Regions from separate parts of the Homo sapiens genome. Here all the other regions are reported to be linked to region 2. Evidence: microRNA targets listed by miRTarBase, many of them from high-throughput screens and not tested one by one. Region 2 holds a microRNA gene; each other region holds the end of a gene's coding sequence.

Region 1 (11,157 bases), not on the chromosome of region 2:
ACAGCCACATACATTAAAACAAGGCTACACAGGAGACTTGCCTAGACATGCTCACAATAGAAAATTCCATCCCCTGACACATGCACAGTAAGGGGAACAAAGCCACATGGAGTAACTCAAGCTAAGGGCTTGCATGCACACTACGAGGATGGGGTGGAGCTACCAGAAATGTGTGCCTTATGCCTTTGTATTCAGCTGTGAAATGGCAACCCTCTTTTGGGCCCCCTCTCTGCAGTGGAGTGCTTTCTTCTTTTGCTTATTAAACTTTCACTTCAACTTCATCTTTGGGGTCCGCGCTCCTTAATTTTCTTGGTCATGAGACAAAGAACTTCAGGTGATACCTTGGGCAATGAGAGACTGCTACATTGTGGTGCATTGACGAGACTAACATTTTGGTGCATTGGCCAGGAAACATTGGAAGGGTGAGTAGGAGCGGACCTCCAAACTCTTTACTTTCATTTCAGAGGCTTCTTGTCCTCAGATTTTTTCCTGAAGACTGAACAAAACACTGGGCCAGTTAAAAGCTTTTAGAGCGGCTGCCAACCTTATGAGACTTAAGATACAGGCTTGCTGGAGAGGACTTTGTCAGTCCCCCTTCACCCTCAGGTGTTGGGAATGTTGGCTCTGTTCTAATCCAGTTTCCTTTCACAGAGGACTTAGCTGTCACATGGGCTAGAAGGAGGTCCTGGGGCAACTGAAGGTTTCTGTTTGAGGCTACTCCTCAGTGTTACCTGAAGGTCCCTGGACTAACTCCAGCCCCCGACAGCCCGTCAGAATGTTGGCACCAGGACTTCCAGACTTTTCTATTGCATTTTCTTCCTTGCTTTTCGCAGCTACTATGTCTCCTATTCCTTCTTTGTATGCAATGTTGTGGGTGTCTTTATAGCCTGGGGAGATAATCCTGTTAAGCAAAGTCAGCAAGTGCCTTAGTAACGAGGAATGTAACTCAAATAATTGTTGTTTTTGTGATTTCCTTGAGACAGGGGGACTTCAAGATTTCAGCCTAAATTTTCACTTAGGGCCTTTTTGTCCCCCAGTGATAGACATTCATGGCACTCTATAGGGGGATGTTTCACCCCAAGTGAATACCCTTTTCTCCATCAGGTTGTTTTTCCTTCATGTAAGAGCTCAGCATTGCCCAATGAATTTAAGCATTCCCTCTATGAGACAAACTAGTTTTTTTTCTACTGGACAGCATATTATGGGGACAGCCTATTAAGCCCCAAACCTCCCTTTCTGACCTCTGCTTGGAAAGAATTTGTAGTCAGAGTTTTTTCCTAACATTTCAAACCCTATAGTGCTACCTAGTGGGATGGGATTTTTCTCTGTGAGAAGCCTTGTCAGCCCTTTGCCCAAAACCTCTAGTTCCCTGATTCCTTTCTCTCTTATGTCCCTCTTTCAGTGATCAGGCCCCATGCCCTATTTGTAAGCATAAAAACTCCTCTTTCAACAGCCAGGAAGAAGCTACCCTGGGAAGACATATTTTAGCCTCAGTGTTATCCCCATTGGAGGGAGAACAGCCATTCAATTTTTACATTCTTTTGAGGCATCTGTTCTGTACACAGCTACACTGGCATCTAAGTGAGAAAGGGATCTTGTGTTTAGAAATCAATCAGTCTCATTCTCTAGGAATTCATAACTTTGCCAGGGTGGTAGTAAGAGGATGTAAGGATAGAGTTAAGATGTTCCCTTCCTTAAAGGGTCTTGCCCCAATCCAACTACTGCACAATCTCTCCCATGGTTCTAGGGAATCTCAGGAGCCTTATGGGCCAAGTAGGTCTAGGAAACCAGCAGGGCAGAGAGCTAGGACCTTGTGCAGGTGAGCACAAGCTAGCTCCTCCGGATTCATGGGTGAAGGTCATGCTTTGATCCATGGGCAGCACCTATAATGGTCACCAGGAACCTGAGGAAATGGGAGGGAAGAGGAGAAGGGGGACGCCCCTTCCATTTTTCTCTCTGCTGTCGATCACTCCAGAAGGACAAAGGAGACTAAGGGATGCCTTTTCTCTCCTCTTTTTCTAGATATGTAACAAATCATCTTCAGCCTATACTCCTCTCAAGTGCATTCTGAAACACTGGAACTCCTTTGACACTCAGACTCTGAAGAAAGAGCACCTCATATTCTTTTGCACTCGGGCATGGCCGTCTTACCAGCTGCAGGATGGGGAGGCTTGGCCTCCTGAGGGAAGTGTTAATATTAATACTATTCAACAACTAGATGTTTTCTGCAGACAGGAGGGCAAATGGTCCGAGGTTCCTTATGTGCAAGCCTTCTTTGCCTTGCGAGACAACCCAGATCTTTGTCAGTGTTGTAGAATTGACCCTGCTCTCCTAACAGTTACATCAGGCAAGTCCATAGATGATAATTCCACAAAGTCTGAGAAACAAACCCCTAGGGAACACTCGGATGCAGTTCCGGATGCCCCAATCCTTCCTGTCTCCCCTATCTGGGAACCTCCTCCAGCCACAACATCAACAACTCCAGTTCTATCCTCCCAACCCCCAACTTTACTGTTACCCCTACAGTAAATGCCTGATGGACCTGGTGCCACTAGGGTCCAAGTTCCCTTTTCATTACAGGACCTTGGGCAAATAAGAGGGGACCTGGGCAAGTTCTCTGATGACCTGATAGATATATAGAGGCTTTCCAAAACCTAACTCAGGTGTTTGACCTTACTTGGGGTGATGTTATGTTGCTCTTAAACTCTTAACTACTACAGAGAAACAGGTAGCCCTGCAGGCAGCAGAAAAATTCAGAGATGAACAACATGTCTTCTATAGCCACTCAATAAGGAAAGAAGGTGAGAAACAACCAGCATTCACATACCCAATAGGAAGCGAGGCAGTGCCCCTTGAACAACATAATTCGGACCCCAGTGGTACCTTAGATGAGTGGCAAAGAAAACATTTTCAAATGTGCTTATTAGAGGGCCTACAGAGGACCAGAGCCAAGCCTCTTAATTACCCCAAACTCTCCATGATAGATCAAAAACTAGATGAAAATCCCTCAGCCTTTTTGGAAAGGCTGAGAGAGGCTGTAGTGAAACACACTTCCTTGTCTCCTGTTAGGTATGTTTATACCTCACATAAATAATTCAATTGAGGGACAGCTAATTTTGAAAGACAAGTTTATTACTCAGACAGCCCCTGATATCAGAAGGAAGCTAGAGAAACAGGCCATGGGATTAGATAGCACCTTACAAAACCTCCTGAAGGTAGCCACCTCGGTCTTTTATAATAGGGACCAGGAGGAGGCCCAGGGGAAGGAGAGGAAACACAAGAAAAAGGCAGAGACTCTGGTGGCCACTTTGTATAAAACCCAGTATCCCCAAGGTACACCTGCTAGTTGCTACCAATGTGGCAAACTAGGGCACTTCAAAAGGGACTGCCCAGGCAGCAAGAAGAAGCCACCTCAACCCTGTCCAGTATACAATGGGGACCACTGGAAGGCAGACTGTCCTGGGAAGCATAGGTCACTGAGTCCAGAGCCAGTCTCACAAATGGTCCAGCAGGACTGATGGGTCCTGGGGCTCAACTCCCTGGCTCCAGTGGCTCAGACTGCTGTTACTACCCGGGAGCACCAGGTGATTCTGGAGTTCGAAGGGAGGAAGGTAGACTTCTTTCTGGACACTGGAGCCAGGCTTCTGTTTTCCTCTCCAATTCAGGCCTTCGTTCCTCCCATAGCACAACCATGATGGGCATCTCAGGAAAGACTTTAACTTGATATTTTTCTCAACCTATTAGTTGCAGTCAGAGGGACCTACTGTTTACACAGGCCTTTTTAGTCATGCCTGAAAGTCCCACTCCTTTATTAGATAGAGATATTCCAGCACGTATGGGGGCCACCATCCTTATGGCTCCAGGACAAACTCCGCCTCCCCTTAGTGGAAACCAGTATTAACCCAGAGGTTTGGGCAACTCAGGGAAGAAGTGGCCGGACTATAACCACTATACCAGTCTGGATCCACCTCAAGGATCCCACTTTTTTTCCTAACCAGAGACAATACCCTCTGAAGCCAGAAAGTAGAAAAGGGCTAGACGCCAGCATTGATAACCTAAAGGCACAAGGCCTCCTTAGGCCTTGCAGTAGCCCTTGAAACACCCCAATATTAGGGGTGCAAAAATCCAATGGGGAAGGGAGACTAGTTCAGGACCTCTGCCTTATTCATGAGGCTGTGATTACGATTCATCCAGTAGATCCCAGTCCCTATACTTTGCTAACTCAAATATCCAAGGGAACTAAATGGTTCACAGTTCTGGGCCTAAAGGATGCCTTTTTCTGTATACCTTTATACCCTGACTCCCAATACTTGTTTACCTTTGAAGACCCCTCCAATCAAACCACCCAGTTAACCTGGACTGTACTGCCTCAGGGATTTAGAGATAGCCCCCACCTATTTGGGCAAGTATTGTCAAGAGATCTCTTCGAATTCTTCCATTCTCAGGTTAAAGTTTTACAATATGTAGATGACATTCTCCTCTGTGCCCCAACTGAGGAAGTTTCTTGAGACGGCACTGAGGCTCTCCTTAATTTCCTAGCTGGAAAGGGATATAAGGCTTCAAAATCTAAGGCTCAGCTCTATCAGACTTTGGTAAAGTACCTAGGTCTGGTCTTGTCAGAAGGGAACAAGAGCACTAGGCGAGGAGAGGATTAATCCCATTTCCTCCCTTCCTCTCCCCAGAACCCTCAAGCAGCTGAGGGATGCTTGGGCATTACAGGTTTTTGTAGGTTATAGATACCCAGGTATGATAAAATAGGTTGCCCTTTATATCACCTTATAAAAGAAATTCAAGTGGCTAAAACTCACTTCCTGACCTGGGAACCTGAAGGTCAAAAGGCCATTAATCAGTTAAAACAAGCCTTGCTTAAAGCACCAGCCCCCAGTCTTTCTGTAGGGAAGTCCTTTAATCTTTATGTATCATAAAGGAAAGGAATGACCCTGGGAGTTTTAATTCAAGTTCAAGGCCCAGCTCAACAGCCAGTAGGTTACTTAAGTAGAGAGCTTGACTTGGAGGCTAAAGGATGGCCAGCTTGCCTCTGAGCAGTTACAGTAGTGGCCCTGCTAGTCCCAGAGGCCACCAAGTTAACCCTGGGGAATAACCTGTTTATGCCTCACATAAATAATGTGGCAGGCTTGCTGTCCTCTAAAGCGAGTCTCTGGCTAACAGACAGCTGCCTCCTCAAGTATCAGACTTTGCTGCTAGAGGAATCTGCAGTCCAGTTAAAAACCTGACCTTGCCTGATCCCAGACACTTTCCTCCCAGAGGAAACTGGAGAAACTGAACATAATTGTGAACAGACTGTAGTACAACCTATGCCGCTAGGGAGGATCTCAAAGAAATTCCCCTAGAAAATCCAGACTGGACCCACTTTATGGATGGGAGCTCTTTTGTAGGACAGGGAGTCTGAAAAGTGGGATATGCAGTAGTCACCCTAAATAACATTGAAAATGTGCCTCTCTCACCAGGCACACACACTCAATCAGTTGAGCTGATCCCTCTCACAAGAGCACTTGAACTAAGCAAAGGAAAGACAGCTAACATTTATACTGACTCCAAGTGTACCTTTCTAGTTCTCCTTGCCCATGCTGCCATCTGAAAGGAAAGGCACTTCCTCACCGCTAATGGGTCTTGCATTAAATACCATCAAGACATCAACAGGCTATTATCCTCAGTGTTCCTCCCATGAGAATTAGTGGTCAGACATTGCAGAGGGCATCAGAAGCGGGTAGATGAAATAGCGAAAGGAAACAGGCTAGCAGACCAAAGAGCTAAGTCAGCAGTAAGAAGGCCCCAAGGTCCCAAAACACTTGAGGCCCCTCTGATTTGGGAGGGCTACATAAGGGAAATAAAGCCTCAGTATTCCCCTACAGAGATAGAATGGGCCACCTCTCGAGGTATACTTTTCAACCCTCAGGATGGTTACAATCAGAAGATTGCAAAGTACGCTTGCCAGCCTCCAGCCAATGGAAGATTCTTAAAATCCTCCACTGAGCCTTTCACTTAGGAAAGCATAAGACATCAGTGCATCCAAAGATTGTTCTCAGGAGAAAATCTACTAAAAATGGTCAAATAGGTTGTTAATACTCGTGAAACCCTCTTAAAAATAATCCCTTTAACAGATGACTTCTTCCCCACCACAATCAAAGGATGGGAAGTTACTCAGGGGAGGACTGGCAGATAGACTTCACCCATATGCCCAAAATAAATGGCATTCAATGTCTTTTGGTGTGGGTGCATACCTTCATTAACTGGGTAGAGGCATTCCCATGCCCAACAGAAAAGGCCTCTGAGGTGGTGAGAATACTAATTAGTTAAATAATTCCTCACTTTGGGCTCCCTAAGTACTTCCAAAACAACAATGGTCCCTCATTTAAAGAAGCCTCTACCCAGTAGGGCCGAGTCTGCTAGGACTTTTTATTGGGTTTGGTAATACGTCACACCCTTTAGCCTCTACTGTGTCAGCCATGTCCCATTTATACAAGACAAATTGCTGGGTCTGTCCTGAGCGGTTTGCTCAGTTCAGTAACACTAAGGAACCTCTTGATGACTTGGTATTTACTGTCTTAGCATTCCCTTTGTTAGCTTTACCTTTAGCCATTAAAGACTTGTCAGGCATAAATGGAACATGGTATGGGAACACTTTCAACTGAGTAACTAACTCCTCCCAGGAAAGCATTTCCTCCCTGGTGCCAGAAAACACTTTCCCCAAAGATAAGCCTCACACCCTCAGGCTAGGAAAAGTTGGCCGGGTAATAGCAAATGCCTCCTCCTGTTTTAAAAGCAGAGGAAAAGGACCATACCTGGGAGATCTCAAATATTATAACACCATACTTGTAATTGCTGAAAGCTCGGAAGTTTGGAGAAAAAGACATAAGAAGGATGATCTAAGAAAATTGGAAGCCATATGGAGGGGAGGCTTTCAGAATTCAGCGTCTCCTCCTGGTTGAAAGTCCTGCTGGGAATGGCAGGCTCTGGGTAACCACCCTGACACATGGCACTATAATGTAAAAAACAACACATAGGCCTTCCCAGACATGCACCCTCATGGGATTCCAGACCCCCTGTATGATGCTTAGTAGTAGTGGCCTACAAATCTGTGGGTGAACAGAACAGGAGACTTCTGGACTGACAGCCCCTGTCACAAGGGGGCATTATCTGAGATATTGGCCAGGGCATATCGTGTCCCTGGTCTTTTGAAACTCCATTTGTCGGCCAGGTGTGGTGGCTTACGACTGTAATCCCAGCACTTTGGGAGGCTGAGGCAGGTAGATGATGAGGTCAGGAGTTCAAGACTAGCCTGGACAATATGGTGAAACCCCGTCTGTACTAATAATACAAAAAAAAAAAAAAAAAAAGCCAGGCGTGGTGGTGCATGCCTGTAGTCCCAGCTACTCGGGAGGCTGAGGCAGGAGAATTGCGTGAACCCGGGAAGCAGAAGTTGCAGAAAGCCAAGATTGTGCCACTGCACTCTAGCCTGGGCAACAGAGTAAGTCTCCATCTCAAAAAACAAACAAACAAACAAAACTCAATTTATCAGGTGGACCTTTCTCATTTAGCATGTAAAATTCCAAATGGCATCGTGAGTGACTATCCTGAGTATAGATATCCCCATCCCAAAGATGTTCCTATTACATGCAGGAGGGGGAAGCTTCTAAGATATGAGAAAGATCTGCCTGTGTCTCTCACAAGCTACAACTTAGAACTGGCCCTTCAGGGGACAGGGCTTTATTTCCTTTGTGGCTCCTGGCTACACTTAATCCTCCCTAGGCACTGGAAGGGAACCTGCACTATCGTGGCAGTGGTTCCTGACCTGTTATCTTTAAATTCCACTGATATGGCAGCATCATCTGGGGACATCCCTAGCCTAGCGTCTTTTCTAGTGAGTGTGCTATCTCAGATGCGCTGAACAAAGAGGTCTATCATTTCCATGCCCTCATATGGAGACTTAACTGAAAGAGAAGATTGGGTAGGACCTGCACATGACAATCCTATCTCAGAAAAACCATGGATAGGGGATTCTATAGTCAGAGGCCTATTCTGGTTTGCTGGTATTCCTCTCCTTGAAAAATCAGTACTTAATATTTCTATTATGATGCCACAAGGGTAGAAGCTAACAGTAGGAGCCATAGAAGCACAACAACAATTCATAAACTCTTTAGCCTCAGTAGTTATGCAAAATAGACAGGCCCTAGATATCCTTATGGCCAAAGTAGGGGGTACCTGTGCACTTTTAAAAAGAAGCATGTCACTTCTAGATCAATACCTCTAGTCAAGTAGAAGAGAATGTACAGGTGCTTAAAGATCAAATTAGAACATTGACAGATTAAGAGAGAATGCGGGCTCCAGTCCCAGTTGGCTACAATCCCTCTTAAATGGATTCCAGTCTTCTTTGTGGAACTGGTTAGCTCCTTTATTAGGCCCCCTTTTGCTCGTGTGTTTTGTACTAATGTTTGGACTTTGTATATTCAATACTGTAACTCAAATTGTTTCCTCTCACTTAGAGGCTATTAAACTCCAAATGGTGCTGCAGATAGAACCACACATAGACACGCCATTCTTCTGGGGACCCTTAGACCAATCTCAGGAGGAGCCCTAACTGCTGTAACCCCAACGACGCCCCCTTCCAGCAGGAAGCAGCCAGGAGTGGTCATCGTCCACTTTCCCCAACAGCAGTTGGGGTCTCCACTCCTGAAGCAGGGAATGAGAAAGGAGGAAGGAAGAAACCAGTCAGACAGGCAGTTAGGGTGGGTCCTCGGTAAAATTCTTCCAAACAAAAGAACAGCTTGAAAAATCAAACTGCAGGCACAGAGAAGAGAACTTGTACAGGGAGGCTTGCCTTAGACATGTCCACAGCTGCCTAGGTAAGAAAGACTACACAGGAGACTTGCCCAGAGATGCCCACAATGGAAAATTCCATTCCCTGAGACATGCGCAGTAAGGGGAACAAAGCCATATGGAGTAACTCAAGCTAAGGGCCTGCATGCACACTGGGAGGATAGGGTAGAACTACCAGAAATTCATGCTTTATGCAAATGAGATGCCCAGCACTCATCAATTTCTTACAAAAGCCTCTGTATTCAACTGTGAAATGGCGACACTCTTTTGGGCCCCCTCTTGGCAGTGGGGAGCTTTCTTTTTTCACTTTTTAAATTTTTGCTCCAACCTCACCTTTGGGGTCCATGCTCCTTAATTTTCTTGGTTATGAGACAAAGAACTTCAGGTGATACCTTGGGCAATGAGAGACTGCTACATTGTGGTGCATTGGTGAGACTGTAAAACTATCAGTTTATTGCTGATAACCCCAACATCAGCAATGATGCTTATGGAAAAAGAAAACAAACCCTTTATGATCAGCTGGATCCTTTAGTTGTTTGCAAAGATGACTCCAATCCTACACCCTTCCCTGAATCCATGTCCATTGCTGTGTAACTTTGTAGTGCCTCTAACTGTGTGACCTCTTTCAGCCAACTTAAGAAGACAGCAGTGAAGGCGTGCCAGTTCCAAGTGTAAGCCCCAAGAGGTCTTGTGTGTCTTCATTTGCTTCCTCGTGTGCTTCTAATGGTGCTGGGAGAAGAACAGGTCGAGACTAGCCTGCTGGAGGATGAGAGATGCTGGCTACCACATCCTTGTTGCTCCAGTGGAGGCCAGGCTAGATTAGATGACAGCCACCTGACTCCATGTGAGCAAATCTGAGATCAGCAGAGCTGGCAGAGCCAACTCTCAAATACTTGGAAAATACTTTTAATATGTAAAACATTTTAAATATTACATTAATATTTAAAATGTTTTTTAAAGCCACTGTTTTATACTGGCTTTGTTACACAGCATAAGCTAAGTGCTACAACTCCTCAGGAAGCTGAGCTTTGACCAAAAGAAGTGTGGTAGCCACAGAGATGTGTCTGAGACCCCCTTCGAGAGAGAGCCTGTGTGAGGAGTGCAGTCAGCTGATGGGCTCCAGCTACAGATCTCAGGGATCTGCATCAGTGTTCCAGCTGGTGCCATGCTCTCCCCAGACTGCTTCTGCCACTGACTGAGCAAGGCAGGAGCTCCGTGTTGGGAGCTGATGCTGGAATACTGAACTATATCCCGAGATCTCCAGCTGCTGATCTCGGGGATCTGGGGTGGCCAAGACTTTCTCAGAGTGTATATTAGGTGCTAGAATAACATCATTTTATTTGATGTCATTTTGTTATCACATTGATGAAAAAAAATTCAGTTCCCAACCTGAGCCACTGTCTGTGTGGAGTTTGCATGTTCTGCATGGGTTTTCATCAGGTACTCTGGTTTCCTCCCACATCGCAAAAATGAGCACTTCCAGTAAATTGGGGTGTCTAGATGGTGCCACAGTGAGTGAGGGTGTGGGTGTGAGCATGCCCTACAGCCAGATACCATCCTCTCCAGGGTTGATGCCCACTTAGTGCTCTGAGCCACTGGGATAGGCTCTGGCCACCCACAACTCTGAACTGGAATCATTGGGTGAGTAATTATTATTTGTTTTTAGTAATTTTTTTTTTTTTGAGACAAAGTCTCACTCTGTCACCCAGGCCAGAGTGCAGTGGCACAATCTTGGCTTACTGCAACCTCCACCTCCTGGGCTCAAGCGATACTCCCACCTCAGTTTCCTGAGTAGCTGGGACTACAGGCGCATGTCACCATGCCTGTCTAATTTTTTGTTGTTGTTGTTGTTGCGATAAGGTCTCGCTGTATTGTCCAGGCTGGTCTCAAACTCCTGAGCTCAAGCTATCCTCCTGCCTTGGGCTCCCAAAGTGCTAGGATTACAGGCATGAGCCACTGTGCCTGGCCTAGTATTGGTCATTAGTATTAGTAATCATTCCTAAATGTATATGTAAACATTTATTTCAGTGTTAAATATTGAAGTGTTTGGTCTTTATTTAGAAGTTTGATGTTGTGTTTTATGACCAGAAATATGCTGTGAACTTAATTCTTTCTTATAGCAGTTAGCCTATGGGAAAATTGGTTTTGTTCTACATTATTTTATTTAAAGTCATAATTTCCAAGATCCTATCAACTCCATTAAGTGAGGACTTACTGTACTGTAGCCTGAGGCTCATCTTAGTCTTCCCTCATCCCCCCTGCCTTTCCTTCACAGTCAGCCTGCATGGTGGTCTGAGGCCTTCCCCCCTACAGCCTCTC
Region 2 (11,157 bases):
TTCATGATGCTGTTTTTGGTGTATTATCTCGTAATACTTTATACTTAATAGTTTTGGAATTCTCTTTATTATGGCTGTCTTCTCTCATTCTTGAATTGAGAAAAGTTTAACAAGCATTGACGTTTGTCTCAAAATGATACTGGTGAATTCTTATTTCTCATATTTCCTTAGATGCTGTTAAAACTTTCTTAGATTTTATGCTTTATTCTGGTTTACATAAAGGTACACATTTCACAAAGGATATGGTTTGAAAAGAAGTATGGGCTTAGTTTCTTTCTGGAGAATTTTTTTGTCTCTGTCTATATATTAATATATATATGTATATGGTATATGTGTCTTAATAAATATATATATTCTTTATTGAGAATATTAATAAATAGGAGAAAGTAGTCACAGAAATAATGGCTGTGCACTTCCAAACTTTGGTGATAAACATTAATCCACACATCCAAGAAGCTTGCTAGTCTCCAAGTGGGATAAGCACAAAGATACCCCACTCAGAGGCAGATCTTGGAACGTGTTCTGACCTCAGGAAAGCCCTGCTCAGCCCCTTACCGTGTTCTCCTTGCGAATTAGCTGGCCTGAAGGTGACACTGCTGCTGTCACAGAGTTCTCTGTGCCCTCCTAATTGCTCGCCACCACCATCTCCATTGTGATGGGGAATGCTGCCCGGCCTGAATGTTCCAACTGTCTGTTCTAAATACAGTCAGCTCTCCCAGAGAGTTCTGGAGCCTCGGTTCTTACTGCCTGCCTCTCCCTGGGCAAAATCTGAACCACTGACTTGGATCTGGGATGGGGTGAAGACAAGGGGGACTGTCTCTCAGGGGTGCCCTGCCTCAAAAGCTGGGTGCCTGGTGTCAAAGCCATCTCTGGTCTTCTGGGTTTGCTGCTATCAGTGTGAAACCCACCAGCAAGCTGGGTCAGGGCCACCTGCCTAGGAAGCTCAGCCCTCAGCCTGGGAGGAGCTTCTGCCCTACAAAGCGGGGCTGGCTGAGGGAAAGAGCTGCATCCTGCGATGGAAGTCGCCTGGGACTTAGCTCAGGGACATCCAGCCAGGGGGAGTAAGGAAGCTGGTGCCCTGCTCCTCCCAGAAAATCACCAGGACCCGAAAGACCATGAGGAGAGGGAGCCTCCTCCTGACCCTGCGGCCGCCCAGAGTGGAGCTGTGTCCTGCTGAGCAGGGCTGGGAGGGCCACACGCCCTTCTTAGCTCTACAGAGACCTGGTAGACTTTCTTGAGGAGACACTTTTCAGTTGCTATATACCTGTAGGATGTTTCCAAAGACTTTAAAGCACACTTTTTAAAAATTCCTTTTACGAGTCATGGTTTGTTTCTCTGGGAAGTGGGTTCACTGCCCTCAAATCACTTTTCCTGATATGACCGCTGTTGATTGTTAGGAAGAGTGGAGGGCTGTGCATTTTTATTACGATTTTCAGAGAAGTTCCCAGATACTATTTTTTTAAATCAACCCTCCTTTTAAGTCTTGGAAACTTTCTAGATATAGAAGATACTAGAGGAAGTTTGAATGTGAAGAATCACATGGTTATGGCTCTGTGGGCAGGGGGTTGTTTTCTTATTTTCGTAATTGCTTTTTTTTTTTTTTTTTTTTTTTTTTGAGATGGAGTCTCGCTCTGTCGCCCACGCTGGAGTGCAGTGGCGCGATCTCGGTTCACTGAAAGCTCCACCTCCCGGGTTCATGCCATTCTCCTGCCTCAGCTTCCTGAGTAGCTGGGACTACAGGCACCCGCCACCATGCCCGGCTAATTTTTTTGTATTTTTAGTAGAGACGGGGTTTCTCCATGTTAGCCAGGATGGTCTCGATCTCCTGACCTCTTGATGCGCCCACCTCAGCCTCCCAAAGCCCTGGGATTACAGATATGAGCCGCTGCACCTGGCCATAATTACTTCTTTAAATAAAATTGGATTCTAAATGAAAATTGAAAGCCGTGGGCTGTGTCTTTCCCTTTCAGTCCTCAGGCTGATTTCCTCACCCCCGGGAGCAATCCCTTAAATGGTGATTGTTTTCATCATTGTTACACAACCGTGATTGTTTAGTCAGCTGTGACTAGAAGATCAATGTATCATTTTTTCTCTGTCTTACTTTCTCTTTCCCAAATGTTTTTGTTATTTTCTTATTTTTAGTTTTATCTTTGTTACCTCTTTAATCATAAATGCTCTTTCATAATCAACTTTTTAATTTCCCTCTCTATGCTTCGTGTTAGACTTAATCACATCATTGCTTTTGTTACCCAAAATGGCGGCATACAGGCAAGTTCCAACCATTCAATGTATGTGTATGATGATTCTAAACACGAAAATTGAATAAGCAATATTAACAGTATTATAGTTATCTGAATGTTATTTGTCACATACGTAACAAATTCTCGTGACACTAAAATGAAAGAAAATTTCTTGTCAAAGTTAAAAATATTTGTGTTCATTACACTCTTTTATTGGATCCAATTGCCCACGTTTAATCTCTCACTTTTGTGCCATGTTTTTATTTTATAGAAGTGGTTTTCACCTGCACTTGTAACTGGCGTTTGAGTATTGTTGGCACACTCACCGGAAGAATGTTCCCCTCCCCTGCCCCAAACCTCACATCTTCATCCTGATTAGATTGAGTTTCAGTTCTGCCAAGGACCACCCTGAATTTATTTTTTCTTGAAAGATGGTTAGAAAGACACTTTTTCTTTGTCTGAAACTGTGTTTATTATTGAGCAATAATTTGGTTTGATATGGGATTTGATCTTAAAAAGTACCTTCCTTTGAAATTGATATGACACTCCATTGCCTTTAAGAACGAAAGTGGTCAAGGCTGGTCTACTTCTGAGGCTTTTGAAGGGAACCCGCTCTTCATTTCTTCCTGGGCAGCTCTTGAGAGCATCCTTCTATCACTGCGTTCCATGGTAGCTCATCCATTCTGGTTGTGTTGCTCCGTGTACCCTTCTGCATGAAAAGTCATCCTTCTTCAGCTTGTAACAGTGCAGCTTTTATTTGAAATAAAAGTTTATCCTCCGTGGCATGGTCTCCACTCTTTCTTTCTGCCCCTCCTATAAAGTGTACATTACCAGTCTTGAATCATTGGCTTTGCCTGAATGAATTGTCTTGCTCACCTGTTTTCTAGATTTGTTGTTGTATTCTAATTATCTGAGTGTTTTTAGATTTGTACTATAAATATCCTATTGGTTTTTTTACATTGTAATAATTATATTTCAAATGACTTGTTTTGTTTTGTTTTTTTGAGATGGAGCTTCGCTCTGTCACCCAGGCTGGAGTGCAGTGTCGTGATCTTGGCTCACTGCAACCTCCGCCCCCCAGGTTCAAGCGATTCTACTGCTTCAGCCTCCTGATTAGCTGGGACTACAAGCGTGTGCCACCACGCCTGGCTAATTTATGATTATACTTCAAATGACAAGACTAATTTTTAAAATCTCTGCATAGTTCCTTTATTAGAACAGCCTATTCTTGTATTGTAATTGGCTTCCCTCAAGTTTTCTATAAGGTGTTTAATGAAAATTAAATGTGCTAATTTTGTATATTTTGTGCTCTTCAGTTCTCCACTGTCTGTACTGATGGCCAGCAGCTTCTGTTGTGATTGTTCCTATTCATGACTTTCTTTCATAGTGCTTCACATGTATGTTCATTGATGTGTATTTGTACGTCAAAATCACATTTTTTTGGTTAATATAAAATGGTGATGTATTTATTTTCCTTTTCTACCCACAGTCTGGTAAATCAGACGTTTATAATCTATAGGGCAGTGTTGGGGAAGCGCTTTGCAGATGGGCTGGGAAGTGAATAGCTAAGCTTCAGTTCAACGTGGCTGCACAGTGGGCTGTTGAATTGGTTGAGACTCCCTCAGGTGCCACACTCAGCTGCATTCCCCCCTGGAAACATCGCCCAGCACAGCAGATCAACTGGAAGATTTGGGATATCATTTGTCTTTGTGCAGGAACTTGGGCTTGAACTTGAGGAAAGAAATTGCATGAGGACCTTACAGGTCATCTGCAAATAGCCATTAATTAATTAATTAATTAACCACCTTGACTCCATACCCACATCTGCCCTCTCTAAATGCCAAACAATAAATTGGGAGCTTTGCCAGGATATCTTCCTCTCACTTTGAATTTGTGTTTGAGACGAGTCCTTTCTTCTGTGATGTATCTATTAGATAAACCTTATCTATTTTCTATCTTATACAAATTTGCCAAAATAGCTCATCTACCAGAGCCCATATTCCTACTCTTAAAACCACAATCATTGCATCCCTTTGGTGTTCTTTATGTTTATTCCAGTCAAATTTGGGAAACAATAGAATTAAATACATATGGTAAATTGTTGTTTTTGACCTGTTGTGTGTTTACTGCCTAAGGCCAGTAGGGACTGTGAAAACAAACAAACAAACAAACAAACAAACAAAACTTATCATGGCAACAACAATCCAATCCTGTATTCTGAACTTGGGTTTCCTGTATCAGGTATCCTATATCCTGAATCTTAATGAATGTTTTCTGTTTATGTTGTCCTTGCTCACATTTCAAAGCTAAGCCTAACCTTGGTCAGTGTGTCCATCGCCTAATATTTTCCCTTTATTTCACTGACAAAGACAATTTAGTAAGACTTATGTCACTAAGCAAATTTCCATTTGTAGACACTGAATTGTTTTTTTTTTTTGTCTTTTTTTAATATACTTTAAGTTTTAGGGTACATGTGCACATTGTGCAGGTTAGTTACATATGTATACATGTGCCATGCTGGTGTGCTGCACCCACTAACTCATCATCTAGCATTAGGTATATCTCCCATTGCTATCCCTCCCCCCTCCCTCCACCCCACAACAGTCCCCAGAGTGTGATATTCCCCTTCCTGACACTGAATTGTTATACAGAAATAACTTATCAAGGAAGATATATGCAGCTTGCATAAAATGTGATTTTTAAAAAGTGTATGATTTTTTGTTTGTTTGTTTTGTTTTGCAGAGACAGGGTCCTGCTATGTTGCCCAGGCTGGTCTCAACCTCTTGGCCTTAAGTAATCCTTCCTGGTTGACTTCTCAAAGTTCTGGGATTATAGGCGTCAGCCACCATGCCTAGTATTGGGTGTCTTTAATTTCAGAGGGTTAGAATTATTCAAATCATAATGATCATACATACCATGGAGATACCCAAACTTTCACAGTTCCTAACCTCTTATCTTCACAGCCTCTCTGGCAATACCCTGAGATAGATAGAAACTGTACCTCTTTCTGTTGTATAAAAGTGGGCACCACCAGCTCTGGGAGTTACATTCCTGCAACTGAGCAGAATCGCCCATCCAGCTCCATTGAGCAGAATCGCCCATCCAGCTCCATTGAGCAGAATCGCCCATCCAGCTCCATTGAGCAGAATTGCCCATCCAGCTCCATTGAGCAGAATTGCCCATCCAGCTCCATTGAGCAGAACCGCCCATCCAGCTCCATCCTGCCACCTGGACACAGTGCAACCTGAGTGTGATATCGCAAACTAACAGCTCTGCACTGGGGCAGTAGGGTCAGCAGTGTGAATTTTATTTAAACTCACAAGATGTAAATATCATACCACGTTCAGAATGGAGCTTTTTGGATGCCTATTCTTCTGTCTCATTTCATAAATTCCTGAAGACAGTGAAAGGCAATGCAGATGGGCTTAATTATTATCTTCTTCTGCCTGAGCATGCTGTGAGAAAAGATTAACGGGAGGGAGAGAAAGAAGAGATAAAATATCCATGACACAAATTAGTATTTAGCATACATTTTGAAATCATGCTGTTTCTGCCAGCTTCATGCGTCTTGCCTCATGCTTCTCAACATACAGCAGACCACGACTCCTAATTTCTAGCTTGATCATATTACTATCTATGTTTCAAGCACATTTTCTCCTAGGTTTCTGATATCTCCAAATGTCTTGCACTATATAATTCTGCAGAGAAAGTATGAAAGTTGATCAGGATAAAACATAGAGAATCCTGTTTTAAAGGAGGGCAAACAGACCCTTGGTACCATTCTCGCCATTGTTCTTGAAGCTTGAGAAATTCTAGGTTGTGTGCTGAGCAGTTACAGGAGCTGTGGTATTAACGAACTGCCACATTAAATAAAAATAGGTTCGTACATTATGCACAATGAGTTGCCATGTTTAGCGTCTATTTCAATACTCATGGAAATAAGTTGAAGCACCTTGTTTAGTGCTATAATTTAAGAACTACTCTATGTAATGCAAACCAAAGATGAAATATGTTCATTTCAGCAGCAGCAAGCATATCTGAATGGAACCATCCTCTCGTTAGTAAGTGACTTCCAGGCAGCAGCTAAGGTGCAGTGTGATGAGGAGCAGTAGCAAAGCCCATCCCTGCACCAGCCCCCACCCTGCACCCCCAATTCCTGCCGCTGAACTTCTTCCTTGAAATTACCCAAGGGGAACGTTTTCCTCTGTGCCCTGCCGAAATTGTGCCCAGTCCTGTGCATCTCCCTAGTGGGTCCAGGACTCAGGACTCTGAACGGGCTGACAAGGGCACCTGGCCTCGGGCCTTGAAGGCAACCCCAGGAGTTCGAGTTTAGAACTCGGGAAGCAGGAACAGCTAAGGGCTACTTTGGAGGGGGCTTGTGTGTCTATGACCCGGCCTGAAGAAACAATGATCAGTGAAAACGTTCTTGGCTCATGACAATCCGTGCTTCCGGCTTTGTCAAGGATGTTCAAATGGAGAAGATGAATCATTGGAAAAATTGTGAAGAGGAAGAAATGAGTGTTCCTTTTGCACCTTCTTTATTGCTTCTGTCCTCCACCAAATATCCCCCAAAACCCTCCACTCAGGGCTCCTTGCACTAATGAGAGAGAACACAGTCTGCGGAAAACATTGTGCAGGGAAAACCCTCGGCATCCAGTATGAGGGACAGACTTCTAGGATGTCCAGCTCCATGTGCCAGGCCCCAGGGCACCCCAGCAATGACATAGGACTTCCACCTTCCCAGGTGCCCGGAGCTTTGGAGATGGTGTTGTCAAGAGCAGTGAGACGCATAGCACAGTCTCCACTGCCCCCATTGTCCCGGAATGAAAACGACACCCGCAACAGTCTGAGCAGCAGGGACACCCTGATCTTCCCGGGACTCGGCTTGCTTTGCAGCCTGGGCCACTGTCTTCTGTACCGCAGTCACTGCATAGCCAGCCCCGCAGGTGCCCCCACTGTATTTCCTAGAGAGAGCTGACTTCAGTCACTTGCCATATCAAGGAGAAAATGGTGAACATAGTGGCCGTCTATTTCATCAAAAGAGCAGGCCTACAGGTTCGTTTATTACTCATCCAACCCAAAGAAGAATCCTCTCTTCCTGGTTATGATCGCAGGCCAACCTCTGCCCAAGTGCCCCTCAAGTGAGGGACACACACAGTTGAATGGGCCCGCACCTGCTCATGGCACAGACTCAGCTGCTCTGTCTCTGTTGTGAGTCCCGGCACATGGGAAAAGCCAGTGGATGTTTAAGTCAATGAAGATCTAGAGAGAGAGAGATCAAACGATTTTGTCTCCTCCACTGACATGAACCATAAAGAAGAACCTTGAATGCATATTTTCCATTGCATAAAAAGGATTGGTACCGTTAAAACTATAAGAAGCTACTTTGAAAAAATGGAGAACTCTGAAACATGAATAACTGGAAACAAAGACGACAGTAACTATATCAAGTCTCTGAATACTGTGACTCACACAGGACCCTAGTGAGACTTTATGCGGTGACTCAGGAGTTTGTGCTGGGAAACTAGTCTATGACATAGAGAAAATTTTTTAATAAAATGAATATTATGAGAGAAAACCTACGAGCCATGAAAGAAAATAGAACCAGCACTTGTCAACTCTCCATAGGAAGTCCAGATGAGAAAGGAATAATAAAGAGGGAGTGATCAAAGACGTCACAAAAGAACATTCTCCTGAAATAAAAATACACTCAGTTTTCCATCTCGAAAGGGATCACTGAGTCTAGGGGAGATTCAAAAAGTAAAAAGATACACACGTGCTAGTAAAGATCTTAAGTTAAAAAATGAAGAATTCAATAAGTTTCCAAATAGAGAAAATAAATTGTCTGCCAGGAAATGACCACATTAGCATCAGACACACTAACTTTGATAACAACAACATCAACCCCACAGTCTTGTGAAGGTTGAATCAGTGTAAAGATTTTAGTTCAATGACTTGTAAACATAAGGTCCTATATACATTTTGTGTTTATTATTATTGAACATAGTTATTGCTACGGGGAGTAAACTCATTTTTGTACCACTATGAGATTGCAGAATTCTACTCTTAGAATTTTAGAATAGGTTAAAGTGTTCTTCATAGTTTTCACAGGACAAAGGACATTTTCAAACAAGTGTGGAATAAGAAACACTTTCAGAAGAGTAGATACTTGTGAAATAAGCGTCTGAAATCTGTCAAATTAAAATCTGAATCGGGAATATAAGTGGAAGAGTGGGGCTAAAGTGACAGGATAAAGAATGTCCATGCGAATGATAAGAGTATCTTCTGGTGCCAGATTTAGAAAAGATTGAAAATGATAATTTAAATCTAAAGAAAGTATTAAGAATGTAGTCCTACATTTTGTAACAAATATTTTATTACAAATTAGCAATGACTTAGAGCTAAAAGTCTGCATAAGTTTAATAGAGTCATGGGTATAGGAGAATAAAAGCTAAAATTTTGTTGAAAGTCTCGTGATGGGTTAGGATGCTGGTCTGAATTATTACATACTTCTTGAATCATGTTTAATTATGTTTTTCTCATAAATGAAAACAGCCAGTAGAAACACTGAAAAAGTAGAAAACATTTATGGAGAAATTTTACAACTCAGAGCAAGGGAAAGAATAATGAAAACACAAAAGAAATGATTAAAAGAAAAATATAGAACACGTTGTGAACAAGACTTAATCTAAAAATGATATGAGTGAAAAATTTGAAAATAAAGGAATAGGAAGATTTATAACATAAGAAAGCATATTATATAAGGATGTGATTATTTCATAATGTGTGTTTCAAAGGCAAAAATGTAAAATTTATAAATATGTTTTTATATCACTAGTTTTCGATACAAAATAAAATGCATTTTATTTCTATATTATTGAAGTCCAATTGAAGCCATTATACTATACATAGTTAAACTGTGTAATTTAATCAGCATCAGATATTTCTATAAAATCAACAACACAGCTGAGATTACAAAGTCTATTATTTATTTATTTATTTAGTACAGACAGGGTCTTGCTGTGTTGCCCAGGCTGGTCTGAAACTCCTGGCCTCGAGCAGTCCTCCTGCCTTGGCCTCCCAAAGTGCTGGGATTACATGCATGAGCCACCATGCCCATACTATTTTATTTTAACATGTAAACTGTTCACACATGTAACTTATTTACATATTTTAATATGTAAATATGCTTAATACTTTAGCCATAAATTTTCTCTGACAAGCTATATATTCTGTCTTCATGTTTCTTAAGCATCATGGGTGTATTAGTTTTCTAGGGTTGCTGTATGAGCCTACCATAAGCCTTCAACAACAGAAATGTGTGTCCTCACAGCTCTGGAGGCTGGACGTCCAGGGTCGAGGTTCGGGCACAGTTGGTTCCTCCTGAGGCCTCTCTCCATGGCTTACGCATGGCCCCCTTCCTTCTGTGTCTTCATGAGGTCTTTCCTCTGTGTGTGTCTGTGTCCTAATCTCATTTTATTGCAAGAATACAAGTCCTATTGGATTAGGGCCCACCCATATGACCTCATTTTAACATAATTATTTTTTTAAATAAAGACCCTACCTCCAAATACAGGCCCATTATGAAGTACAGGGGTTAAGACTTCAAGATGAATTTTTGTAGTTCACAGTTCAGTCCATAATCAGAGTTACTCCAGGTCCCCAAATTCATCTGGTGATCATCCATTTCCACCAGCTGTCAGTCAGCATACCTCATTCATTAACAATTAACTACCGCTAGTACCTAATCACTCACTCATTTCTACCATGTGCTTACTGCTTCAGAAAACGTACTGTTTCACCAAAGGCTATTGAATGTTTGTGAACAACGAAAACACAACAGAGAGAGGTCTATAGTTAGAGGGAACATCTGGAGTCCTGAACACCCTGACTGCAAAGTCAAAGCTGCTTTGTTGCAAAGGCAGGAGGGGGAGGAGGTGGACACGGCTCACCTGGGACACTGTGGCATTTCTTGGTGATTGATTACCTGAAGTCAGAGTCCAAAGTCTCAAGCTCTTTGAAGCTCACAAGTAAAACATGACCTTTAATATCAGCTGTTCCCAGCCCAGAGGGACAGAGTCACAAAGCCCAACTCCTACACTTGTGAGACAACATGGATGTTTATTGTTTATGCTAGTGAGGGCTTGTGGCTCATGACCTTAGTAAAGGGATACAGAGGTTGGGTCTAAAGAACCTAGATCTGACATAACAAGACCCTTTTCTGTGTAGCACTGGCCTTTGGACTGGAGATGGGGATGTGAGAAAATTGTGCACAAATCATTGAAAATTGTTGAGGAAAAATACTGAGAAAATTGTCCCTGGAGGCCAAAAAAATGTGAACCACGTGAGGTGACTGAGAAATGATCACAATTCTCTCACCTGCAAAATACCTGATGAACTTTCAGATGTGACCAACGGGATCTCCAGCCAAAATATTGAAAGTGCCAGCTACCTGATCTCGGCTGTTTATTGGAAGCTTTCAAAAGTAAAAAAGATGAGTGAAATAAAACATTGCCCAGTCTGTACAAGAATTTAGAAGGGATAGAGAGAGCCTGGTCTTGTGGGAATGGAAAATAAAGCCATTTCTGATCTTTCATCTCTTTCCAGCCAGCAAAAGACTCTCAAAATAATCTATAGCCTGGGGGCACGGACAAAATCAGTGGTGTGGCAGCATGACCCTTGGTGAGGGGCTCTGTCAGGTTTGAGGCTGTGCCTAATAGACACTTTCAGCTACACACAAAAAATCTTCAAACAGAAGTCCCCAGAAGCCTGACATAGCCAAAGGAGCACAGATAAGACTAGAGAGAGAAGTCTGTCTAGAAATTAATTATGAGTTTGTCTTTTTTCAGGTGGATTGAAATGGAATCAAATACAAAGAAGTCTGCAGGATTTTCATGGGAGTTGCACAGGCTCTAGG
Region 3 (10,401 bases), not on the chromosome of region 2:
GTATCAGGTTTCAGGCTTCCACAGTAGACACAAGCTAAGCCTTTGATATAAGGAAAATGGCCTGATGACCATTTGCTTTAGTTATTTGGGGTCTATGTAATAGTGATACCTTTTTTTTAATTTTCATTAGCAGAAACACAAATTGCCTCAATTGCTCTTATTTTAACTAGAATATCATGCAGTTTACCTAGAATCTAGGTGGTGAGGGTCTAACCACAAGGGAGTGGTTGTTTTTTGTTGTCCATTGCTCCTGCAATGGAGACCCCATGTTCCAATTCCCCCTTTCTTGTGATATCCAAAGGGGGTTATAGGATGAGCATAGCTTGGTGTCTGGAGCATTACCATATTTCAAGGAATTGACCTCTACTGCAAACAAAATGCAACATTTTGACATGTCTCAAAGAGGTTATTTCTTTCTATTTGCAGCTCAAAGAACAACGTGAAAGGGAACGTAAAATGAGAAAAGCTAAAGAGAATAGTGAAGAAAGCGGAGAGTTTGATGACCTTGTTTCAGCTTTACGCTCAGGAGAAGTGTTTGACAAAGACCTTTCTAAATTGAAACGGAATCGCAAACGTATTACCAACCAGATGACTGACAGCAGCAGAGAGAGACCAATCACAAAACTTAATTTCTAATTTTCCATGAATACTTTTTTTTAGAAAGCTCATTAGCAGCCCTCTAAAGTGACTAGAACGTTTCATTACACTGCCTTGCAATCCAAACAGTGGCAATTTTTTCCTTCATCTGTGAGTGAATGTGTGAACGTGTGTATGTAAATGTATGTGTGTATATATTAAAAAATGTATATAGATGTCTGAGTGTTGTCTGGAGACCTATACGTATGGTTAAAAAGATTTATGTTAATGTATGTGCTCCAAAACCTTTCGTGTATGCATTCACATTGAGTGTGGCTCATTTTCTTTCCCCGAACGCCATGACTGTTCAGAAGCACAATACTATCTCCTGAAAGAGATAAGAGACATTCCCTAGATTCAAAGGCAAAACAGAAGAAACAAACAAACAAACAAAAAAAGCTTGCAAAATATTTTATGGTTTCCAAGCTTGATATCCTTTAAAATTATTTTCATTGATGGAACTGGAGTTGTTGGAAAAACATAGATTTAAAATGATTTTTGATAGCTGACATTGTGATGTTGATGTATCACATCAGTAATAGGACCAGCTTTGAATTTCTGACATTGGTGTGGGGATACAGTCTGTAAATGTTTATTGAGAACATCTTGCACACAATTTGAATTATGTAGAATGTCAATCAAGTTTTTGTATATTTAAAAGTTGGACATCAATTTTTTCCCCTGATTTCATCAAGTTATCTCTGCCAAGTGCTCTTGATAATTTCTTCAGATTTTTGGAAAAAAACACTATATAAATGCAATCCATGCTTTTTTTAAAGAACAACATTGCCAGAGTATGCTTGTTCTAACAATATAGATATATAAACCTTAAAAATAATAAAATATCTCACCCAAGACTTAAAGGAAGAATTCTCTGAAGGGATAAAGATTACTAAAAAAAAAAAAAAAAAAAAAAAATTAATGGGGTGCCTTTTTGTTATAGTTTCTATTTTCTGTTTTGTAGGACAAGCTGCATTTTCTGTAAATATAGGTCTGGACTAAAGGATACATAAAGAATGCACAAAATGTCAACATCAGCAGAGATGCCCAGATCTATTTATCTCTAAGTATATTTGAAGTGATTGCTGTTTATATGTTGTCATTTTAAAATTGTGTGTCAGTAAAGCTACCTGTAAAATTTCAGTCCAAAAAAATAAAGCTCTCAGGGAGACATGAATAAAATCAATGAACATTAGAAAATAAAATATAGATGCTTACCATTAACCTACCAACTCTTAATATCCTTAAATTATGTGATATATAAAGAGGACTGTTACTTTTTTACTTTTTTTTTTTTTTTTTTTTTTTTTTGGCTTTGCTTTATTTATTTGTAGTTGGGGGCTAACGTTTTCTCTTTTCTTTCTATTGATCCTGTTGTGGTTGGGTTTCCTGTGGAGAGAGTAGTTTGTCCTGTTGCACTAGAACATTATTTACTCACTAAATTGAGTTTTTCAGTCAATTAACAAATATTTATTAAGTTCCTACTATGTACCAGGCATAGTAGGGCTACAATGGTAAGCAAGACAGAGTCCCTGCCCCCAAAGAGCTTATATTCTAATGGGGATATTAAGGGATGAATAGAATACCAATGTGTGCACTGTACAGGAATCATACTATTTAAAAATAATTTGTATAAACTATAATGCTTAGCACAGATGGCGAGTTATCTGTGCTATGTGAAAGCTGTGAAATAGTGCTCTAAGAGTTGTCAAGAGCTGTGGTTTTACATCTTTTCCTCATTGCAAATTTAGTGACTTTCTACACACTATATGGAAATAAATGACTAGCAAATAAAACAGTCATAAATACAAAGCAGAGGTTGCACTCCCCCAATCCCGAGTTAACCCAGGTCTGCAATAACACCATGTTAAAGGTGCAGATAGAGACTTGGCTCAAAAAGGCTTGGAGATGAGGAAGATTGGAATATAATGATGGTTTTGTCTGTTCCTTAACTAAAGTGCCTCTATGTATATTCTTTTCTATTTGTAGCAGGATAAATTTGGTCTGGCTCAGTTTTGGAACTGTATTTTGAAAATGGCTTTGTCTTACAGTTTAAGGAATAGACAGGTGGAGGGAAAGTCACATAAAGGAGCAAGTTTGTGTAGCTGTCCCTCTTGCCCCTTTTAATCATCCTCCTTTGATATGGCCATCCTGGTGGGCCTCCTTTGCCATTTCCATTTTTGGTTTCTTTCCCTGAAAACTGTGTGCAGGTAATTCCATGTGCCATTGTTGAAAAGAAAAAAAAAAAACAAAAAAAAAACCTACTTTTTAGATTGGTGCTGGTGTAAGTAGCCACTTTTCTCTCTTGGGTGTGTATTTTAAACTTTTTTTGTTTTTTTAAATTAATGCCAAAAAGAAAATGCATAATTTGTAAACTTAATTATATGTCTTATATCTTATTAGCTTAGTAGTTGGAACCACTTAGTCTTTAGGTGCAAGACTGTTGTTAGATAGTACTGAGAAAAAAAAAGTATGTGTTATGAGACTGTACATGTTTTTTTAAAAATAGCAATATGCAATAAAGAGATGAATTCATTGGGTGTACATATATGCTTTCTATGAATTATTAAAACAGTGTCATCAAACTGCTTTGCAGTTTCCACCATTGAATTTCAATTTTGCAAATTGTTCACTGAATCGGAAATATATACCTGTTTTTAAACTTGTACTTACTGGACCTAGAAGAATATAGTTTTCTATTATGGCAGCATTCAGTATGTTCAGGTTATCATATGCCACCTCTTTCTATACTTGGTTTATGTATGAGTTATACAATTTCTTGTTATAACTCATGTATGGTAGGGCTACTGGTGAAATTATTCAACTAGAGTAGAGAAAATAATCTCTAGTCTCTAGAATCAAAGCCTTTTTGTTTTGAGGCATGTTTTTCTTATTAAAAATTAACTTGATATGGGTCAGTATGGGAAATGGCACCCATACAGATCAAGAAATTTGTTTATCAGTATCCTCTGAAAGTTGAAGCTTTCCCTTTGTCCTACATCACATTTGCTGCCTAGCCACCCTTAGCTCAATTTAAGTTCACGTTGGAAACAAACTGCCCCAGTGACTGATAAAATACCCAAGCAGTCCAAACACTAATTCTTATCATCTTTGGAATGAACTCATGATGTTCTTGTAATAGCTGACCATCTTGTTTTTTATCACCTCACTGCATGGCTTCATAGTAACAACGTTCTGTGGAGCTGACACTCAGATAGGAGAGACCCTTCTGCATGTTAGACAAATGTTATATTCCCACCCACAAACTCAGCCACTGCCTATTTGTATATTTGGGTATGGAATTATGTACAGAACCACCTAGATCCTCAGTTGACCTTGGTGTATTAATAGAAAGGGGGGAGAATGTGAAATTTTCAGATCATATGCTTCATTGTCTTCAGTTTCCCCAAAACAATGATCACTGAAGGAAATGTGCTTCTGACAGAGGGGTGAAGTTATGTGATCCATCCAGAACTTTGCCCCTTTTCTATAACCTAATGTGCATTTTTTTTGTTAGTCAAGGGATAACCTTTATTAAAATACTGTGCTTTCGACACAATTACAGTCATGTGTCATTTAACAAGGACACATTCTGAGAAATTGTGCCAAAAGCTGATTTCATTGTTGTGCATACATCATAGAGTATACTTACACAAATGTAGATAGCATAGCCTACTACACACCTAGGCTATATGGTATACAAAGCCTATTGCTCCTAGGCTACAAACTGCACAGCATGTTACTGCACTGAATAGTGTAGGCAATTTTAACAATGATATTTGTGTATCTAAACATATCTATAGAAAAGATACAGTAAAAATACCATATAAAACATTGAAGATGGTGCATCTATATGGGGCACTTACCATGAATGGAGCTTGCAGAACTGGAAGTTGCTCCAGGTTAGTCAGTGAGTGGTGAGTGAATGTGAAGGCCTAGGACATACACTACTGTGGGCTTTATCAACATTGTACATCTATGCTAGACTAAATTTATTTTTTAAATTATGTAATAAAACTTAGCTTACTATAACTTTTACTTTATTAACATTTAGTGTTTTGATTTATAATAACTGTTTAAAACACAGCTGTACAAAGGTATTTTCTTCACATCCTTACTCTATTAGCTTTTTTTGGTTTTTAACTTTAACTTTTTAAACTTTTTTTGTTAAAAACTAAGACATATTAGCCTATGCCTACATGGGGTCAGGATCATCAATGAGACTGTCTTCACTACGCATCTTGTCCCACTGGAAGGCTTCAGGAGCAATAACCCGCATGGAGCTGTCATCTGTGATAACAATGCCTTCTGGAGTACCTCCTGAAGGACCTGCCTGAGGTTGTTTTACAGTTAACTTTAAAAAAAAAATGAGTATACTTCAAAATAACACATTTGTAGTAAATAAACTAGTAACACATATCATTGTCAAGTATTAACGTACTGTTCATGTGGATGTGCTATAGTTTTATAAAACGGGCAGCTCAATAGCTTGTTTTATGCCAGCATCACCTCAAACACATGAGTAATGCAATGCACTACAGTGTCACTAGGTGATGGGGAATTTTTCAGCTCCATTGTAATTTTATGAGACCACCACCATATATGCAGTTCATGGTTGATTAAAACGTCGTTATGTGATGCATTACTGTGTTCAAAAGGCTGAGTTCTGGAAGGTAAAACTTTCTGTGACTGTTTTTGTTTTTTAATAACATCAGCTGTTTCCTATAAAGTGGAAAACCTAAATTTAGCAACTTCCAAGGCTTAACAGCTACTTGATACCATTTAGTTCCATAAACAATATCTTTGAGAACCACTAGACTATATAGAGAGAATTAAATTCAGGGGTCTAGGGCTTCTCACATGGGGTGTTTATAAACCATCACTGTGTTGAGTTATGTGCTTATTTTCTGTGTGGTCTATATACTGTTTTAAGTATCTATATCCCTGTTGCCTCTATTGATAATAACTGAAGTCTAAAAACCTGTTGAGCCTATAATTAAGAGATGACTTAAAATCTGAATTCTTTTTTCTTATTATTTTTATTTTTAAAATGTTTTCAGAGACAGTGCCTCACTATATTATTGCCCAGGCTGTTCTCAGACTCCTGGCTTCAAGCAATCCTCCAACCTTGGCCTCCCAAAGTGCTGGAATTACAAGCATGGGCCAGCGTGTCCTGCCTATGAATTATTTATGTTTGAGAAAATTTGGGGCCCATGGAGGAACAAGTTTCTTGTTTATAAGGATTTTGTGTTTTCCATAGCAAATACCAATCAGAATTATTTTTTATCTGAATCCTGTGGAAAATGTCAGACCTGCCCTTTGGTCTCTTCCCTAACATGCTTTTATCTACTGCAATCAACTGCATGTTTCCATGGTATCAAACAAACAAATGAGCACAGGACTGCACCCCAGGGTTTTCAGACAAAGGAGATCCTTATTTGTATCAAACCTTAATATGTTTTCGTTTTTCGTGGGAAAAAGTTTCCTACGTATGATTTTTTTCTATTTTGTTTGAATAAAGCATTTGTTTTTTATGATTCTCTTGCTCTTTTGCTGGGAGAAGGAAGAAAGGAAATGGTTTAATGGTACTGATTTCAGTATCATTATCCCATCTCATTCGCACCCATTATGGTCATGTGAGGACGTTTCTGGGCAAAGGAATCTGCAATCCCTCATGTAATCATGAGCATTTCTTGTTAATATCCTCACCATCACTTCCAGCGTAGAAAACCTTTCCTAAGTTAAATTAAGTTGAGAGCTACCCTGACTCTTCCAGGATGGGAGGAGGTGTCTGAAGAGATGACTGTGATGCTGAGCAAGGACACGGGAAGACAAAAACAGGGGAGGAGCCTGTAATCCTAGCACTTTGGGAGGCCAAGACAGGCGGATCACGAGGTCAGGAGATTGAGACCATCCTGGCTAACACGGTAAAACCCCGTCTCTACTAAAAATACAAAAAAATTAGCCGGGTGTGGTGGCGGGAGCCTGTAGTCCCAGCTACTGGGGAGGCTGAGGCAGGAGAATGGCGTGAACCTGGGAGGCGGAGCGTGCAGTGAGCCGAGATCGTGCCACTGCACTCCAGCCTGGGCGACAGAGCGAGACTCTGTCCCAAAAAAAAAAAACAAAAACAAAAAAAACGGGGGAGGAAAGGAGTGACTACCAGCAGCTTAGGAAAATCAGTTTGCCGGATACAAAGTTAATACATAAAAGTCTATTGTTTTCCTATTTACCAGCAAAGAAAAAGTAGAATTGAAAATTAAACATACAATACCATTCATATGAGCACACCACCAAAATGAAATACTTAGGTATAAATCTAACAAAATACGTACAAGATCTATATGAGGAAAACAACAAACCTCTAATGGGAGAAATCAAGGAAGAGCCAAGTAAATGGTGAGATAGTTCATATTCATGGATAGGAAGATATGATATTGTCAAGATCTTTTCAACTTAATCTATAGATTCAATGCAATTCCAATAAAATCCCAGCAAGTTACTTTGTTTTTATTGACAAACTGATTCTAAAGTTTATATAAATAGGCAAAAGATACAGAAAAGCCAACACAATATCGAAGGAAAAGAACAAAGTTGGGAAACTGATTCTACCCTACTTCAAGACATAGTATAAAACTACAGTGATCAAGACAGTGTGGTAGTGGTGAAAAAACAGACTAATAATATAACCCACAAATAGAACCACATAAATATAATTAATTGATTTTTTTAAAAAGGAGCAAAGGTAAGACTGGAGCAAATATAGTCTTTTCAAAAAATAATACTGGACCAACTGAACATCCATATGCAAACACAATAAAGCTAGACAAAGACCTCACATTCTTTACAAAAAATTAACTCAAAATGGATCACAGACTTAAACAAAATGACAAAACTCCTGGAGATAAGAGAAAATTGAAAATTTAGATGACATTGGCAGTGTCATCTGTGTTTGACAGTGACTTTTTAGATGCAACGCCAAATGCACAATCCATGAAAGAATTGATAAGCTGGACTTCATTAAACTTTTATGGCCTGCAAAAGACACAGTCAAGAAAATGATAAAACAAGCCACAGACTGTTAAAAAAATATTTGCTAAAGACATACCAGGTAAAGGACTGTCGTCCAAAATATACAAAAGACTCTTGAAACCCAATGAGAACACAACTCAATTTTTTAAAATGGGCCAAAGATCTGAACAGCCTCCTCACCAAAGAAGATATACAGATGGCAAATAAGCATATGAAAAAATGCTCCACATTATGTGTCATCAAGGAAAGGCAAATTAAAACAACAACAAGATATCACTACACACTCATTAGAGGGGCCAAAACCCACTACACTGACAACACCAAATGCCAGAGAGGATATGCAGCCACAAGAACTCTCATTCATTACTAGTAAGAATGCATAATGGTACAGCTACTTTAAAAGACAGTTTGGAAGTTTCTTATCAAACTAAACATACTCTTACTATACAATCCAGCAATTTATTCAAATGGGTTGAAAATTCATGTCAACACAAACATGTGCACATAGATGTTTATAGCAGCTTTATTAATAATTGCCAAAACTTGGAAGCAACCAAAATGTCTTTCAGTAGGTGAACTGATAAATTGTGGTACATCTAGACAATGGAATATTATTGAGTGCTAAAAAGAAATGACCTATCAAGCCGTGAAAAGACATGGGAGTCTTAAATGCATCTTACCAAGTGAAAGAAGCCAATATGGAAAGGCTGCATAGTGTATGATTCCACTCTGGAAAAGGTAAAACTAGGGAGGCAGGGAAAATATTAGTGGTTACCAGGGGACAGGAGGAGGAAGAGATAAGTATGAAGAGCACAGAGGACTTTCAGGGCAGTGAAAATACTCTCTACATGTCATCTTACATTTGTCCAAACCCATAAAATATATAACACCAAGAGTGAACCCTGATGTAAACTATGAACTCTGGGTGATAATGAGGTGTTGGTGTCGGTCCATCAATTGTAACAAATAGACAGCTGTGGTTGGGGATGTTGATAATAGGGGAGGCTGCACATGTATGGGGGCGGGAGGTATGTGGGAAATCTCTGTACCATCTGTTCAGTTTTGCTATGACCCTGAAACTGCTCTAAAATATAAAGTCTACTTAAGAAAGAAAAGTCCCAATATACATAGCCAAGAAACCTTCCCACCCAATCAGGCCAAGTCATCCTACTCCTTTGCACATACCGGCTGCCTCAGGTAAACTCCCTCTGGTAACTTTCCATGCTTTCTGCTTTTCCAGTTTATTCACATCTGGATATATCTCGATAAAACAGCTCTATGGGATGGCTTTTCACAATACTTCCTTGGACTTCCATGCAGACTGCCACCATTCAAGACATCAGCCCCATCCCTAAAACACTCTGATTAACTCTTAGACTAATAGGACCTTAATATTCATATCTTAACTTTTGAGGATCCAGAGGGAAGAAATAATAAGGAGGGCTTGTCACTAGTGAGCTAGTCACTCTCAAGCAGTTCAGATTATAAGCCTTTTGGATTTCAAGTTTAAGATAATTTTTGCAAGCTGACTGTCATTACAAGGCTCACAGGAAAAGACTTTGCTCCCTCCTTCTCAACTTCCTTCCTTCCCAACCTCCCTTTCTTCCTTCCCTCAAACCACCTTCATTAGTTACTCTCCCATCAGAAGACCTCATTATTAGGAATTCTCTTAAAATGCCTTTTACAGAAAACAGTCCTCTCTTTCTGCCTTGAATGTGAGCTATTTGACCCTGAAGAGCCGCAGCTGTTCAGTGGCCTGACATTTTTATGGCTGGTGAGTTCACACTAAAAGCTGGCTTCCAATGTCTGCTAGAGGCACTGCTAGGAGGGGGTCTTGCGGGCCCTACTATCTTTCCGGGCTCACTGCTAAAGAATTAATGCAATAGGGAGAGAATCCTCTGTCATGTAATGCTTGTAGGACAATTGGCATTGACTTCTCCCCCACTGGACTGTGTAAAGGAGACCTTGACCAATCCAGAAACTATCTACAGCCATTAAAGTACACACCACAAAAGGTGGCTCCCAAATTCCCATCTGCCTATTCTGTTGTCTTGCACCAACAGCTAAGCAACACACTAGGACCCAAGTTCCAGAGTTGTCTGTATTGCTATCAGACATGAGCTGTGACCCTCGGTCAGTCTCCCACACATCTTGGCTTCACACTTTAGAAGCTGGACAGAGCAGCCCTAAAACTTCCCATTGAAGGATGCTGTAGCCCTGCCTCTGAGGTTCTCAGTCCTTAGTTGCTGGGAATTTACTGCAGCCAACTCATTAACGAGAATTAAACAAACTGTTCTCATCACACTGTTTATCAGTTACAGCCAAGAACTCGGGCTTCTTGCCCTGGCTGTTTGGGAAGGGGAAAGGTGGAAGGGCAATTGCTTAGAGCACATTATATTACAGCAGTAATGAGGCTCATTCCAGGGTTTCCTTTTACCAGGTAGCTGTGGTAACGCTGATCCTCGGGGACTCATCTGGGCTGCACTAAAACCACAATGCCTTGATTTTGTCATAAAATCAATGTATAACATTAACATGGCTTTACCCTGTAGAGGCCGTTGTGGTGACCTAGGAAGAGTGTGGTTGGAAGAGGAGGAAGGAACAAATCAAACTAAATGGATGGGCCCACTGCTGTCCTCACTGGCGTGAGCACAGCTGGAGTGTTGTGTTCTCATGGATACCGTGTTCTAAGAGCAGCGCTGACAAATGAAACTGCATCCTGGTGAGCAGGTTTAT

The links. Region 2 holds the annotated microRNA hsa-miR-6072 (UCCUCAUCACACUGCACCUUAG, at 6,324-6,345, opposite strand). A microRNA usually pairs through its seed, bases 2 to 8, with sites in the 3' UTR of a target mRNA and lowers its output. Matches are read on the target gene's strand: a 7mer-m8 pairs with bases 2 to 8, a 7mer-A1 pairs with bases 2 to 7 and ends in A, and an 8mer does both.
Region 1: miRTarBase lists NCR3LG1 as a target of hsa-miR-6072. Seed matches in the 3' UTR shown: 7mer-m8 at 7,275-7,281.
Region 3: miRTarBase lists DAAM1 as a target of hsa-miR-6072. Seed matches in the 3' UTR shown: 8mer at 2,544-2,551.

The regions. Positions count from the first base shown.
Region 1 is chr11:17,369,984-17,381,140 of GRCh38, forward strand. NCR3LG1 (natural killer cell cytotoxicity receptor 3 ligand 1) reads left to right here. Exons shown (of 5, transcript NM_001202439.3): 5 at 2,023-7,358. The coding sequence ends at 2,529. Among named protein-coding and RNA genes, the nearest start is that of KCNJ11, 13 kb to the right of the region's middle. RefSeq lists a silencer at 1,735-1,935 and enhancers at 6,357-6,895, 8,202-9,401.
Region 2 is chr10:2,069,708-2,080,864 of GRCh38, forward strand. MIR6072 (microRNA 6072) reads right to left here and starts at 6,382; the gene lies at 6,312-6,382. RefSeq lists enhancers at 586-1,087, 1,088-1,587.
Region 3 is chr14:59,368,224-59,378,624 of GRCh38, forward strand. DAAM1 (dishevelled associated activator of morphogenesis 1) reads left to right here. Exons shown (of 25, transcript NM_001270520.2): 25 at 427-3,180. The coding sequence ends at 636. Among named protein-coding and RNA genes, the nearest start is that of GPR135, 92 kb to the right of the region's middle.